Linked DNA regions of Homo sapiens: region 1 is linked to region 2. The links come from fine-mapping of genetic effects on gene expression. Tissue or cell type: whole blood. Region 2 holds a variant in brackets; the other region holds the start of a gene. All regions are shown on one strand. Distances are between the middles of the regions.

Region 1 (8,099 bases), 28 kb after region 2:
ACTCATTAGTTCTTTTATCATCTCTTTAGAGTAGGAATCGTCTCCAAATCCAATCCCCCTCATCTGTCAAAGGTGAGAAGACTTGGGCTGCAGGTCTAGGCTGATTTCCTTCCAGACATACAGCCACATCTGGCAGCCCAGAGCTGGGTGCCCGCCAGGGCCAAGGTGCCCTCGTCCACAGCCCTGCCTTGGTGCTCACCTCTCATGCCTCTACTCACTGGAGGGTAGCCTCCCCACAAGGCTGGTGACACAGGCCAAGTGGCCTTTGCGAGGACTTGGGCTCAAGTTCACTGGGGGGAGAGGGGTGAGGATCAACTATCAGGAGGACTGGGGGCTTTCACGGCTCCCAAACACCCCAGAAAGTGAGTGAGAGCCCCTACTTCCTCAGGAAGGTTCTGGAACACTGAACTTGCTCAGGAAATCCCAGCTCACCAGGTGACCTGCTCTTCACCATCTCTGCACTTCCAAGAACCCCCTTGCCTTTGAGATCCCCCGCACCACCCACATCCTAAGGCCAGCACCTGCCTGTTTCCATCCTTGCTTAGTCTCTGATGCACACGCACCCACCCCCCACACCCCACACAGCCAGCACTGTGCATTTGAACATGTGGGGCATGAGCTGAAGCCCTTTCTGCAGGCGTTTTGTTCAGTCTCCCCCAATCAGAGTCTGTGGAAGAGATCTCCTTCCTCTCCATTCCCCAGCAGGGTACTGTCCTGAGACACACTCCTGAACCTCTCAGCCACTCCATTGAATGATCTGTGTCACTGGCTCCTGTTATGTGCTATGGGACTCTCTGTACTAGGCATGATATGTGGAATATCTCATCTAATTCTTGCAGATGAAGGGAACAAGGCTCAGAGAGGTTAAGACACCTACCCGTGGTCACACATGGAAAGAACTGGGAATCCACCCCAGCCAACTGGAGGGCAGAGCCCCACCTCAAACTGCTTGGTGTCTGCCATAGCACTGCGCCCAGAGCCCAGCCGCAGAAAATCCCCAGCAATTTCTCCTGAAGACCTGCTGCCTTGGTTACCACGGTCACCCCACGCCTGGCATAGCACTTGCTCCAGTCAAGCTTGCTGAAGACTGGGATGACCGACGGTCCACCTGACTCTGTTAGTGACTGGTGCTCAGGAGGAAAGAAGACATCCAGGAGAGACCTGTGGTCACAACAGGGGAACTTACCAAAAACAGGAGCCACCTTAAATAACACCCAGAGCCAGACTTCCGGTCCTGGCCCACCACGCTCATCTCCTACTCAGCGATCTGAGTGGTGGTGAGGGGGTGAGCGGGACCAGGAGCCAGTGGGCAGGGCTGGTGTCAGCTGCCCAGGAGCAGTGGCCGATGGGAAGGGACACCCTCTGGAACCATTTGATGCCCAGCACAAAGTGAGCCGGGGCCAGAATCCTGGGAGGAGGGGCAGAGGCTGGAGGTAGGTTCATCTGGCTCAACTGCCACCTGCCCATGGGACTGAGGGGGCTGTGGGCAGGCCCAGGATCCACCAGCCACAGCTGTTGGGCTGATAGGAACTGTCTCTGGGGCCATCAGGGTGAGGGAGTCCCCTTACCATCCCTACCCCCACCTAGGGGTCTTCTTGACCCAATGAAAAGTTTAGATTTCCTCCAGTGGAGAGGAGAAAACTATGGCTGGAGACCCCGGGTGTGGGATGTGGGGCACAGGGTTTGGGATGGGGACACACACACACACACACACACACACACACACACGGCTGTTTCTGAAATCATATCCGCCTCTTTTCATGCATTCTCTGGGAGAGGAAGATTCCCTGGAGCTATCCCCAGGCAGCCACATTCTCAGGGAACACAGACTCCCACAGGCTGGGCTCTGGGGGAGGGGGGTGGGTCCACCGACTGCCGTCTTGCTCCTGAGTGCCCACTGAACCCCAGGAAGGGGTCCTGATGCTCCCCTCCCTCTGGTAGGGCAGGCACCATCTGCCTGGGCCTGATGGCAGCCGGGTCGTCAGGGGTTATTATTAGACTCCCTGTCACTGGCGCTTGGGCACCTCACACTGGATCAGGATTCCCTCCAAGAGGCCCTGCTTTGCCCTGATCTGTCCCATATCTGGAGAACTTGACACAGGGAGAGGCCGCCGGGGGCCAAAGTCCTGAGATGGGCGCCTGGCTCTGAATAAATGGACCTCATCCTGGTCCACTGGCCCCAGAATCTTTGACCCAACACAAGGAACTGATACAGGTGGGCTCCCGGGGCCAGAGCAGGCGTGACCAGACCTGAGACGGGCTGGGAGATTCTGCAGCTTTGTTTGTCTGGGCAGGGAGGTCTGGGGAGCCCTGGCCCTGTTTGTGGGGTGCAGAATCCTGCCAAGGGTCAGCAGAGTAGGGAAAGGGCGGGGAAGCCGGGAGTGACTGCCCTAGGCCAGAAATTCAGGGCTTAAAGGTGTGAGGTAGAGAGAGGGGCGTGGGGGAACAGGAATGGGCCAGTCTAGGACCAGGGGACACAGAGAAGCTGACTGTCAATGCAAGGGGGTCCTCAGGACAACAGTGTGAGATGGGCTGACGGAGGCCACCTTCCTTCCCTGGAACAAGCGCAAGCAGCTGTGGGTTCTCTGCGCTAGAGGGGAAGTGACCCACACCGCTTCCCCAAGCCCTGCAGCCTTCCAGCTGAGACTCCCACCCTGCAGGCCGGGGCTGGGGAGGAGGGGTGCTGCGAAGACCGACTCGGGAGACTCTACTCAGTTTCTGCCAAACTTTCCTAGGCCACTCAGCCCCGGAAAGAGAGCGCCCCATCTTGGAATCTCAGACGGTCGAAAACTTCGGGGCACCCCTCAGCATCCCCGCACCTCGCGCGCCAGGATTACCCCGAGACGAATGCCCCTGTCCTTACCCCTCCCCCGCGCCGCCCTGCCCGCTCAGCGTTCAGCCCCTCACCCCGCAGGCGGTCTTGCGCCCTTCCTCCCCTTCCCCACGCTCGCTTCACTCTGATCTCTTCAGTTTTCCCGGCCCCCAGGTTCCCAGACAGGAGGGGACGCGGGCCACGGGCCTGGGAGGGTGGGGGAAAAGGGGAGAGGGGAGACGGGAAAGGGCTGCGCGGGGAGAGAAGGGGTCTGAGAGGCACGTGGGAAAGTGCAGGCTCTCGAGGGGAGAGGGGGTAGTGCGGGGACTTGGGGCGCGCGTGGCTGCGGTCTGGGGCGGCGTAAACTTACCTCCTGGTAACTCTCGTCGCCGGGGCTGAAGGTGCTGTTCACGGGCTGCAGGCGCAGGCCGACGTGCGGGACGCTGTGCAGCCACACGACCCACCAGGGAGCGATGTAGTCCACGCGCGCCGCCTGCATGGCTCGGCCCGAGTGCTACCCACAAGCTGAACGACAGCTGCGCTCACCTCCCGGCCGGGGCCCCGTGCCCGCCCCGCCCCCGGCCCCGCCTCTCCCTGGGCCCGCGCCCGCCCCGCCCCGCCGCGATCCCAGTCCCAGTTCTGGGCGCGCAGCCCGCTGCAGTCAACAGCCCCTTTCTGGGCGGGGATCTGTCCTGGCCGGATGGGAGGAGGGAAGTGAAAAAAGCTCCCAGAAGTCTCTAAATCAGTTTCAGTCTCGAGGTCCCCGGGCTGCTTCTTATTTATGATCAGATCAAGGGTATAAGGTGTCAGTGGGGGCAGCCAGCAGTCATAGGCCAGAGAGGGGCGACTGCCCGTCCCAAGGGCTTGTCACAGGGTAAGTAACCGACAGACTGGGAAAGGAAGGAGGCAATCTTCAGCCACTCGGTCACTCATTCTAAATTCACTCTCATTTTTTGGGCATCTATTGTGCAAGCCCTGTGGACTTAAAAAGAGAAATAAGACGCCGTCCCTGCCCTCGGGAGCTCCCGGCGCATCTGCCCCAACAACTCGCTGAAGCCGCCTGCAGGACGCCTGAGTGAGGACAAGGTGTCTCACTCAGAAAATTTGCTTGATTCTTCCTGGCAAGTGGGACAGGGTGAGCTTCCCGGAGGAGGGGACCTTCGAGCTGTGTAGCGGGGAAGGTAGGAGAGCGATGAGAGCGCCCGGAAGGGACAAGCATTCGGGGAGACTGAAGCGCATTCAACAACATATTTATTGAGCACCTACTACGTCCAGGCACTGTTACATCGGTGATGTAACAAAAGCCGACAAAAACCCTCACCCCGAGCGCAGGCACCGCAGAGGGCGATGACGACCCGAGAAGATGCCGAACGCAGGCCAGGAGGGGGCTCTGGGGAAAAGCAAAGGCAGGGGAGGTTGCCCATCGGGGAGCCTCGCGTCCCTGGGCCCTCCGTACTCTGCACATATGCAGAGGCCCCCACCCGTCCTGTAACCGCAAACTGCTTGGCGTGACTTGGCCAGCGGAGGGAGGAGCCCAGGCTGCAGGACAAGCAGGAGTCAGGGGTAGGTGCGGTGGAGTGATGGGGTCGCGGCAGATTGGGCGTGGAAACCGCGCTGGGCAGCCAGCCTGAGGGGTGCGTATCCACCGCGGCAGGGACGCGGGTGAGAAAGGAGCCCCGGGAGGACGGGGCGGGGCTCCTAGGGTTCTGGCTGAAGGGACCGGGTGGATGCGGACCGACTGAAAACGCTCGCAAACACATATGGCTGCTGGGGAGTGGGGCCCCAGTCACCCGGTGCTCAAAGGCCCTGTGTCCATTAGAGGAAGTCCTGGCCTCGGGGCCTCTCCTCGTGGCCGTGATCCCACGGTTCTGGGGCCCTGCAGGAGCCCAAAGCTGAGGGGCCCGGAAGGCTGGAAACAGCCATTCTTCTCTCATTGGGGTGTCTTTCAACAAATTTTCTTGAGCACGTTCTCTGTTCTAGAGGATACAGTAATGGATAAAACACACGTTCCCGCCTGCATGGCGTCTACAGCCTAGTAGGCGAGGTGAGGTGGACTTGTATCCTGCAAACAGCGATTGCAGGCCTTGTGAAATGTCAGAGTCCCTGCTGTAGGGAGAGGGGATGGAAGGTGGGCGTCAGGGTTGTTTCCCAAAGGACAGTGACATGAGCTGAAGGATGATCGGGAGTCAAAGAGGGGGGTGCTGGGGGAGGCCTCTGTGCAGAAGGAACAGGACCCTGTGAGATCAGGGACTAAGGCCAGTGGAAGGGGAAGCAAGCAAGTTCCAGAACAGGACAGGGAGCCGGAGAACTGCAGGAGCCAGGCGATCAGCTTGGAGACTGCGGCAGGGGAGGGAACTTCTTTGGGTGAAAACCTCCTTTTAAAAGGTCTTGGTCTCTGACTCAGTCCCTGCAGTTGCTGGGGAAAGTGGACTCTTCTGGTAGCTGCTTTTACAGCCCCTGCCCTCAGAGGCCCCCCAGGTGGGAAGGGCCTGCCTCCTAGGCAGTGGGTGGTCACCGAGGACTGACTTTGAACCCGGGGCAAGGGAGCCCCAGAAGGCTGGAGGCCTGCACACGGCACTGGAAGAAACAAACTGCAAAGGCTGTCCCTCAGGGCTATCTCCACAGCCACCGGAATGCGGCCTGGAATATCCAAACCTGTCAGCCCACCTGCACCCAGCCAGACAGCGACCATTCTAGCTGCTTCCCCGGAGGCCTGCTGACCCAGAGAGGTGTCAAAAAGCTGAAGCACAACAGACAGACCTCCCACAGACTCAGCAGGGAGTTGGAGGACAGTCGGCACACCAGCAGCTGTAGCCCATCACCTCCCCCCTCCCCATTCACCTGGTATGCAGCACTTAAGGGCTTGCTGAAGCCCCAGCAAAGCAGAGGCCCACCTGAGAGCTTGGAAACACACCTATGCCCCAGACCACCGCAATCGCAATCTCCAGTCAGCCCTGGCCACCACAGTGAACTGCCTAAGTGCCCCAGATGACTGAGTCACAAGCCAGGGCTGGGAAGCACTGCATGAAAGGCGGCCTTCTCTAGACAAGGCTGGACACACCCCTGCAAGGCCTGTCTCCTAGGAGCTGGGATGAAACTCTGGACGATGTGCTGGGAACAAAGAAAACCCACATGGTAAAGGCTCGCTTTTCCTTGGGAATCTGCAATGCTTACAGAACGGGAAAGGCTGAAAGCCGCCCACAGTGCCGCACCTGGGCCTGAGGGCTGGTGTACCCACCCTCTCCCGGAGGAAACAAGACCCGTGACCAGACTCAAAACCACCTCACACCCTCACAATCCTTACAGAATATTCAAAGACTGGCACTTCAACCTTACAACCTGAGCACGTCTAAATGCCTAACACAATACCAAGCACACTGTATGCCACGCTTTTAAAAGGTAGAGATCTTAAAAAAACAAAAAACACTACCTCGGGTATGAAGACAGATTTTATGATGCCAGTCATTTCCAGAGGGGCTGCCCGCTGTGGCACAGCACCACCTGGTGGCCACCCCAACCCATGCACCTCCCCCCATCCCAGTACCCTGACAGCAAGCCAATGAAAGAGGTGTTAATATGGCTATTTTCCAACTGAGGAAACAGGCAAAAGTGTAGTCATTTCTCCAAGTCAGTCAAGTTAGCGAGTGGTAGATGTGCTATACCTTGTTGCACCCATTTTGGGACCTGTTTGAATGGCATGCCCCACCATCGCTCCCACATCTGCCAGTTATGTTTAACCCCACGTGCTATTTCCATCATGGCCTCCCCACATCTTATTTTCAAACAGGCTGAAAACAGATGGCCTCATTTGCCGACTGAGATCATGCTCAAGATTAGGGATGCACCGGGCACGGAGGCTCATGCCTGTAATCCCAGCACTATGGGAGGCTGAGGCAGGCAGTGAAACCCTGTCTCTACTACAAATACAAAAATTGGCCAGGCGTGGTGATGTGTGCCTGTAATCCCAGCCACTCGGGAGGCTGAGGCAGGACAGTCGCTTGAACCCAGGAGGCGGAGGTGGTAGTGAGCTGATATCGCACCACTGTGCTCCAGGATGAGCCACAGAGCAAGACTCCGTCTCAAAGAAAGAAAAAAAAAAAAAAAAAAAGACACAGGAAGGCAGCAACAGAACCCGCGTCCTGTTCCCATCAGAAGCCACTACGAGGTAGCATTTTTCCCTTTCCCATCCGCAAAGACGAAAGACACTTAGGATTTTTAGTATTTTAATATAATACAGTTCCAATCAGTGTGTCTGGTTCATTTCAGTTCCTTCACTGCCAAACCTAGAGGGAAAGAGACAAAAGTAAGCCATCCAGAAGACACATCTGAGTTGCTGCTGCTTGTCTAAATTTTGTACTTAAGCTAAAGAGAGCACACAAGGTTCAGAAATTAGATCCACCAGCGAAGTTTCGGTTAAAATATTTAGTGTTTGATAAAAAGACTTGGTCTATTATATTCGATAAAAAGACTTGGTCTATTATATTTCATCTGTTCCCCTGTAAAAAATGGGGACTATCAGTACTAGCACCAACCTCGAAGGGTCGTGAACAGGATTAAATGAGCTCTAACCGCTCTTCTGGCTAAGGAAATGATTTCTGGTACTGTATATAATCTGAGAATCACAACTATTCCTCACACTCCCAACAGCAAGAGCAGATTCTTAGACCATAAAATGGGCTCTGAAATCTGAGAGGGATTCAAAACAAGATACAACATGGCCACACACAGCAACCTTCCAAACCCCACCCGCCCCTGAAGTGACTTCAGGCTCACTCACCGGGGGGCAGGGACTGCTTCAGTTTCTCTGCCTTCTCTTTGTCAGTGATGACCAGGGTGTAAAGGTATCTGCTGCATCGAACTTTAAACTTCACGTTGTCCTTATTTTTCTTGATCTTGACAGCTACCGGAGACCAGAATCAGGAATTAAATTGTATCACAGAAAACAGATGTGACACAGTCCATGTGCAAATACACTCAAGCAGTAAGCAGCATGCAGGAGACAGCACCCACCTCCAGTACCATCCCTCTGTGCAAACAGAAAACACTATTACCCGTTCCTCCAACTTGGGACTTTTATTGGGTACACTGAACACAACATTACAGAATATCTTCTATCAACCTTATTATCTTTCTTATTTCTACTTTGTTTTTTGAGACAGAGTCTCGGTCTGTTGCCAGGCTGGAGTGTAGTGGCGCAATCTTGGCTCCCTGCAACCTCCGCCTCCCAGGTTCAAGCGATTCTCCTGCCTAAGCCTCCTGGAGTAGCTGGGATTACAGGCGTGCACCA
Region 2 (8,099 bases):
TTCTCGACCATTCCTTGGTCCGTGGTCACTGCACTGGGGTGGCAGGAGGCAAAGACAGAAAATGCCCCCTCTTCTCCCTTCTGCACAAGCCTCTGCCTAAGGTGCTAAGTCAGGCAGTGCCAGAGTCCCTGAGGGCATTGTGTCCACGCCCAGAGCTAGTGGCCAGCCCCCAAGTCACTGGACGAGGTGTGAGTGTGGTTAGGGAGCTTCTTGTACAAGCCACCCCCATCTTATCCTATCAAGCCTCAGGTCACTATGGCAGAACAGATGCATGTCCCAGGGTTAGTCTGTGGACTTTGAATCAGTGAGGGGTTCCTTGAATTCCCCTGGTAAACTGTGTTCTCTTCTATCACGTGCATGTGCATGAACACACACACACAAACACACACACACACACACACACACACACTGCACCTCCACTGTATCAAAGCCTGGGGTTGCAGTGATCTGCCTATGAGTCTTGCTTCCAAAGGCTGGAACTTTGTCAACAGCAAACATCACGTCCTCTTGGCTTCCGCAACCCCAGGCAACTTGTACCATCGAGTGCCACCCAGCAAACAATGTCAGCTGAGTGAATGAACAGCCTCATGCACACAGCTTAGCGCCAGTGTTAGGTCCTTTAAAGATCATGTGGACCCGCATAGGAAGCCCCCAACTTTTTTTTTTTAAGCCATTTTGAGACATCACATCCAGAAACATACAGCATGTGTGCTTCAGACCGCGGGAGTCCTGGGACATTGGGATGGAAGGCAAGTCAGACACCACATTCTACAGTCCCAGGGCCTGGGGAGCTGGCAAAGCAGCAGCTTCTGATGCGGGAGGGATTCCCCAGTCTGAGGCTTGGACCCCTACCCATTCTCAGGAGACCCGGTCAGTTCTTCACACCCAGAGAGAAGCGCCCTGGTCACCCAGGCACGCCTAAGCCTAAGCACGTGTAAGCCTAAGCATGCCTGGGCAGCCGGGGGCTTCTCTCTGGGTATGAAGCATGAGTGTCTTATCCTGGCTCTGACCCTGGGCAGTCCCCTTCCTTTCTCTGGGCCTGTTTCCCCATCTGTAACGAGAGGGGCCGGTTCAGATGACGCAAGTCCCTTTGGTTCTGAGATTCTGGGATTCTAGGTTAGGAGCTGGGACCGGAAGCTGGCCCTGCTTGGAGACACACCAGAGTGTCCTGGCAGACCAACCACCACCCACCACCCACTCCCTCCCCCAACTCACCACTGCCGCAGAGCCATCAGCGGCCAGGGATGCCCAACTGAGGAGCAGGCTCAGTGCCCCACAGCACAGCATCCTAGGAGAGAGGCAGGCGACAACGTTGGCAGGCGGGGTCCCCTTCCTCTCAGCCATCACCCCACCCACCCTGCCCCCAGACCCTTGCAATGGATCCAAAGGCAGCCTCAGTCCCTGCCCTGACGTGGGCCCTGCTCACTACTAGGAAAGGACCATGGAGCCCAGGTCCTTGAGGCTAAAGAGACCCAGGCGTGAGAGCACAGGCTAAGGGGGCAGTGTTGGCTAAGACGGCCAGAGGCTTTCATGCACGGACCCATGTTTCTTAGCTGCTCAACAGAGTCAGGCCCAGAGAAGGAGGAAAGCCTAATGCTTGCTCGTTTGGTGACCAGATGGTGAGTTGGTGGCTGCTGTCTGTCTCCTCTGCTGAGTGCTGAGGACGGGGCAGAAGGTGGCCTCAGGCAGCCTGGCTATTTTCCCCACACTCTGGAGCTGGCCAGGCCCTCGTCTCTCTCTGATGATGGCATCCTGCCCAGCTCTTTGTCCCAGGTCCACGGGTAGGGATACTCACGAGGCCAGGAGACACTTGGAGCGCTTGGCCAGTCCCAGGCAGGCAATGAGGCAGATGACCAGGTCCAGGATAAAGAGCAGGAGGTAGGAGAGCCACCTGGGTAGAGGGGCAGGGATGGTCAGGAGCAGCAGGGTGGAACTTCTGACCTGCTGGCCACGTGAGAGGCCTGCACGGCAGCCCTGGGACACACTGGACCCTCTACTATGGACATGCTGCCCAGAGCCAGCAAGCACCCAGCATGCGTGGGCTGAAGCCTCGGGAGCTGCACCCCCACTGCTGCCTGGACAAAGCTGTCAATTCACACCCCCTGCCTTCACCTCTAGGCTGAGTGTCAAAACCAGCACTGTGCACTAGAACTTTCCCCAGTGGAGGAGCTGTTCTAAATCCCTGCTGTCCACTCTCTTCTTTGCCACTACCCACAGGTGGCTACCGAGAACTTGAAATATGGCTTGTGCAACTGAAGAAATACATTTTAAACTTTACTTAATTTTAATTAATTTCAATAGCCACACATGGCTGGGGCTACCACCCTGGACAGCACAGCTCTGAAGTGTCTTTCTGCGGCCTCCCAGCAGGCATCGCCTAGGACCCTGCTTCCCTTTGCTTCTAGAACTCTCAGACAGCATCAGACCAGCCAAGGCCTGATGTTTATAGCCACAGATCTAACACAGCCCCTAAGGTGCCTGCCTCTTTGACAAACACTCAGCCTGGCTCCCCAAGGCCTCCCATCTTGCCCCCTTGCTGGATGGGATCCATAACTTAAGACTTTTAGGTTCAGGACAGGCGCAGTGGCTCACGCCTGTAATCCCAGCACTTTGGGAGGCCAAGACGGGCAGATCACTTGAGGCCAGGAGTTCGAGACCAGCCTGGCCAACGTGGTGAAACCTCATCTCTACAAAATATACAAAAATTAGCCAGGTGTGGTGGCGGGCACCTGTAGTCCCAGCTACTCGGGAGGCTGATGCAGGAGAATCACTTGAAACCAGGAGGCAGAGGTTGCAGTGAGCTGAGATGGCGCCATTGCACTCCAGCCTGGGCCACAGAGTGAGACTCCATCTCAAAAACAACAACAACAAAAAACTTCAGGTTCATTTTTAAACAACATTTGTGCCAGGCACTGAGCTTGGCACCAGGGATACCCAGGTGAGTGGGCTCGTTTCTGACCATCAGAGGGCTCAGTGTGGAACCCGGGAGTCCAGGTCAGGGTACCTACAGCCCTGCAGACCTCCAGCCTCCTCCAAGCCCTTCATTCCTCTGGCCTTTTTGTCCCCAGGGCTGGACTGATGGGGAAAGGCAG[T/C]CACACCCCAGCTGGGAGACCTTGGTAAGCCACTTCACCCCTTGAGACCTTGGTTTCCATATCTGTAGAGGGAGCTGGAACCCCTCATCTCACAGGGCCAGAGGAAGGATTAAGTGCTTGCTAAATATAAAGGTTGATGGGGCAAGGCAGCCAAGGACTTCAAAGGCCCTGCCCTCCTGCTTCTCCAGAGAACAGGCTGAAGAATCAAAGTATCTTAAGCCAACGGACACTGAGAAGACCCCAAACAAAGTGCCCTCGTTCCTTTCCCTTCCACACAGGTCCCCAAGGTGGTCCTCACAAGGCCCAGTGGTCTCCCCTGGCAGCCATGCCCTTTACCCTGTGCTGGGCACCAGCGGGAGAGTGGACAGAGGAGGGGCGGGCACAGAGACAGGGGCTTCCCCGTCCCCAAAGAGGGAAGTATTTGGATCATTATTTCTCTTGCTGCAAGAGCCAAGTAAAGTCGCTGACCTCTCCTCTCCAGCAATGGTTTTCTGCTTCACTGACATCATAAAGGGGAAGACGGAGTTTGGAGCGTGGGCAGGGAGTGCCCTGGAGCTGGCAGAAAGTGGCAAAGAGGCTCCGAGGGAGAGAGGGGAGGGAGCAAGCTGGAGGCCTGGCAGCCAAGGGAGGTTCTTTCTGACTCCCCGAATTGAGGCTTACTGCCAAAAGAAGGGGACTAATCAAAGTCCTTGTCTCTGCACGAGCAGGGGGCAGCACACACTAGGTCTCTGGGGTTCCCCGGAATGGAGCCGGGGGCTTTGGGGAGTGGGCAGAGCCTGCTGCCACCAAGAAGCCAGTTTCCTTAGACTTAGCTCAGAGCTGGAAGGAACCTCGCAAACCATCTAGTGTTTGGATCACATTCTTATTTTTACACGCACACACACACACACACACACACACACACACACACGTATTATAAATACCGGGTCTGTCTATGTTGTCCAGGCTGGTCTCAAACTCCTGGACTCAAGAGATCCTCCTGCCTCAGCCTCCCAAAGTGCTGGGATCATAGGTGTGAGCTGGATCCCATTCTACAGATTAGTACAGATTAGAAAGCCAAGGCCCCTGGTGGGGAGAGCCTGGCCCAGAAATTCCACATTGTCTACATCAAGCTTCCTGCAAGGGACACAGCCAGCTACAGGGCACCTCTCGAAATACCCAGTTCATGTTTCAAACTTAAAGATTTCTTCTCACCACTCGCCTCCGCTCTGCAGAGCAGCAGGAAATCCAGTTAGGGGTGCTTCTAACCCACTCTCTGTGGCTGTGATTCAATGTATTTTCCCTGCCTCCACGCCTCATGTTGTCAGGGGTTCCTGGAAACATCTCCTCTAGGCGGATGTGTTTTCCCAGAGGAGCTGGGCGAGGACTGGGGGATGTATTCCTAACCAAGAACTCGGCTCTGCCTGCCAGAGCCACTCCCACCCCGGCTCCCTCTTCCCTCAACCGTAGCCTCTCAAAGAGAGGAGCCCCTTGGCTTTTTATCTCCTCCAATACTTCGCCCCGCCTTGTATAAAAATGCTAGGAAATATCTGCTTTGCTGCATGGTTATGCTCAAGGACTATCCCAAAAGCAAAGACAGGGGCCCTTCAGGGGAGGGCTTTTTTTGCAGAGCAGCTCAGGTGAGAGGAGAAGCCACAGATGGAAGCAAAGACAGGAGAAGGGGTAGAATATCACTGATGTTCAGGCGCCATAGGTGCCAACCTTGGACTAGACCTCTGCTTTTTTTTTTTTTTTGAGACAGAGTCTCACTCTATTGCCCTGACTGGAGTGCAGTGGCGCAATCTCGGCTCACTGCAGCCTCCGCTTCCTGGGTTCAAGCAATTTTCCTGCCTCAGCCTCCCAAGTAGCTGGGACTACAGGCGTGCGCCACCACGTCCAGCTAATTTTTGTATTTTTAGTAGAGATGAGGTTTCTCCATGTTGCCCAGGCTGGTCTCGAATTACTGGCCTCAGGTGATCCACCCACCTCAGCCTCCCAAAGTGCTGGGATTACAGCATGAGCCAAACCTCTTCTGCCTCAACCCGAATAAGCAGTGGGGAGTTGGGGATGGACTCACAGGGGGTCCTGTCAATCACCCACGCTGAAATAGCTGATGTGCAGTTGACACCATCCTTCCACTATTTTAATACCATCGCCTTAACAATAAGCCGCCTTTGATATGTAAATTCTGACTTAATTCCATCAGTGTCATTAACAAAATGCCCACATGAGGCCCTTAAACATACACAGTCCTCTGCTAGGTGTGCTCAGAGAAGAGTGACGTTAAAATGGGTCCTGCCCCTGCCTGACATAAGATTTCGAAGGCTCAGGCAATGAATGGCCCATGCATCAGGAGAATCATCAGACACCCCTGTTTTGGGGCCACAGGAGGTCACAGACAGTCCTTAGAGCTGGCAGTTTCCTTCTGTCCCTTGGGAGGGAGGCTCTTTTGCCCATGAGCATCCATCTGCTGGGGAGTGGGGCCAAGGTCCCTTCAATCCAGAGCATCCAGGACATGGCGGAGATGCAGGGACTGGACGGGCTGGGGAGGCAAGGTGTGGGGAGGACCCCCAGAGCTGGGGACTTCATGAGCTCCCTCTGCTCAGGGACCTGCCACCTCCTATTTTTGGGAAGGGGAGAGGCCCCTGGACTCAGTCCAGCAGTGACCTCCTGGAGTGGGGCTTTATGACACAAGGGGACACAAATCCAGAAAACAGAAGTAAGTTGTGCAACCCTGAGCTAAAGGCTCTGACGTTCATCAATGGCTTGAAGAGGAGCCAACAAATGGAGGGTGCGGGGAGGGATCCAAAGAACTGACACTCGCTCCTCCTGACTCATGCTTCCCCTCCCCACGTGCCTCCTCCATGCTAGGCCCGGGCCCTGGGAGCACAAGCCCAGGCCATCATTCAGCCGGGAGCCCTCCAAAGGCTGGGGCTGCTGCCTCCTTCCTGTGCTTTCCACGGAGCAAACTTCGCTGGACCCTGCACCTGGAGAGGGGCAGCAGGTCCCTGCTCCGCCGATTGTGTCCAGTGCCTCTGGCTAGGCTGGGATTTGGCAAATGGGGAGGCAGGGGAGATGTAAACAAAGCCCCAGAGGTCAGATGACACGGGCATGAGTTTGTACACCTAAGTGAGGGTGGTGCCCCTCAGTCCCCATCACTCAGGTTCTACATAAGTGAGGCTGGTCTGGGCATGGTGGCTCATGTCTGTAATCCTTGGACTTTGGGAGGCTGAGGTGGGAGGATTGCTTGAGGCCAGGAGTTTGAGACCAGCCTGGGCAACAAAGCAAGACCCCTATTTCTAAAAAAAAATTTTTTTTTTTTTTTTGAGATGGAGTTTCCCTCTTGTTGCTGAGGCTGGAGTGTGATGGCATGATCTTGGCTCACTGCAACCTCCACCTCCTGGGTTCAAGCAATTCTGCTGCCTCAGCCTCCCAAGTAGCTGGGATTACAGGCATGCGCCACCACGCCCAGCTAATTTTGTATTTTTTAGTAGAGACAGGGTTTCTCCATGTTGGTCAGGCTGGTCTCGGACTCCCGACCTCAGGCGATCTGCCTGCCTTGGCCTCCCAAAGTGCTGGGATTATAGGTGTGAGCCACCAGTCCCAGCTGCAAAAAAAAATTTTTTTAAACTAGCCAGGTGTGGTTGTATGCCTGTAGTCCCAGCTACTCAGGAGGCTGAGGCGGGAGGATCACTTGAGCCCAGGAGTTCAAGGCTACAATGAGCCATGATCACACCACTGCACTCCAGCCTGGGTGACAGAGTGAGATACTGTCTTAAAAAGAAAGAAAAAAAAAGTGAGTCTGGGGACACAGCCTCATTCCTCCCTTGTGCCTCCTCCACGCTTAGGCCCAGGCCCTGGGAGCACAATGACTTGTAGGTCAGAGCCTCCCCTGATGGCAACTTCTTAGCACCCTTAGCCGGGTGCTCATCTCCTCAACCCCCCATAACCCTGTGGCTGTGTCTGTGGATACAAGAAATCCTGTCCCATGAACTCTGGCAGGCGAGGAACCTATGAAGCATGTGGCGTTTCCACCCTGCACCAGCCACGAAGAATGCTAGTCCCAGAGAAGCACCCCACCGTGTGCGGGAGGCTGAGGCCAGGTCCAGCCTTTGGCGCGGGGAGTGTGAGCACATCCCTGTCCTCTGTAGCCTCTGCTGCCTATCTATTAAGGAGGCTATCCTGCATGCTCACCACGTGGCCCCTGTAAGCCCCCATGTTCTCCTGATTTTGGCCAATGGCTTATCAAGACTTTCTGGTGGGCTGGGCATGGTGGCTCACGCCTGTAATCCCAGCACTTTGGGAGGCTGAGGCCAGTGGATCACTTGAGGCCAGGAGCTCGAGAGACTAGCCTGGCCAACATGGTGAAACTCTGTCTCTACTAAAAATACAAAAATTAGTCTGGCGTGGCGGCACACACCTGTAGTCCCAGCTACTTGGGAGGGAGGCTGAGGCAAGAGAATCTCTTGAACCCCGGAGGTAGAGATTGTAGTGAGCTGAGATCGTGCCACTTCACTCCAGCCTGGGCAACAGAGCAAGACTCTGTCTTAAAAAAACAAAACAAAAAAAAAATACTTTCCAGTGGCCCTTCTCCACCTGGAGCTCAACATGCAGGTTTGGATAAACAAAGCTGATGTAGCCGCTGCTGCCCCTCCCTCTGCCTCCCACCGGTCCTTCACCTGTAGTACTCCACGTAGCCAGTCTGGTCGGATAGCTTGGTCAGCTCCATGGTGACCTCCCTCCACACGGGCAGTCCTGAGAGCTGAACAACAACGCTGCCCGCCATCTGCTGTATGAACTTCAGGGTCTGCAGGTAATCGCCCCGGGCAGCAAAGATCTCACTGAGCCGGGCCAGGTGCTGCTCTAGGTCCACCTTCATCTTCTGGGTAGTTCCGGAAACCTAGGGAGGAGCAGGGGGCAAAAGCCATGGAGGTAGAGCTTCTGATTCTCATCCCGGAAGAGGTCTTTGCAGGCAGCAGAAGGTGGCCTGGCCAGGTGCGATAATTACGCTCATGCCTGTCATCCCAG

What was found. PIP is the estimated chance that this variant, and not a neighbour inherited with it, causes the effect.
Region 1: TTYH2 starts here. The variant in region 2 is fine-mapped to the expression of TTYH2 in whole blood (TOPMed, PIP above 0.99).

What each region holds. Positions count from the first base shown.
Region 1 is chr17:74,208,800-74,216,898 of GRCh38, reverse strand. TTYH2 (tweety family member 2) reads right to left here and starts at 3,328. Exons shown (of 14, transcript NM_032646.6): 1 at 3,183-3,328. The coding sequence starts at 3,311. RPL38 (ribosomal protein L38) reads right to left here. Exons shown (of 5, transcript NM_000999.4): 4 at 7,590-7,712; 5 at 6,244-7,095. The coding sequence ends at 7,070. It overlaps MGC16275 (a long non-coding RNA gene), which reads left to right and starts at 3,578. Exons shown (of 2, transcript NR_026914.1): 1 at 3,578-4,375; 2 at 5,217-6,919. RefSeq lists enhancers at 984-1,033, 6,357-6,406 and a silencer at 3,292-3,451.
Region 2 is chr17:74,237,166-74,245,264 of GRCh38, reverse strand. It overlaps TTYH2 (tweety family member 2), which reads right to left. Exons shown (of 14, transcript NM_032646.6): 4 at 7,751-7,971; 5 at 1,796-1,891; 6 at 1,216-1,288. Among named protein-coding and RNA genes, the nearest start is that of TTYH2, 28 kb to the right of the region's middle. RefSeq lists an enhancer at 1-383. The variant T/C (reference allele first, on the strand shown) is at 3,093.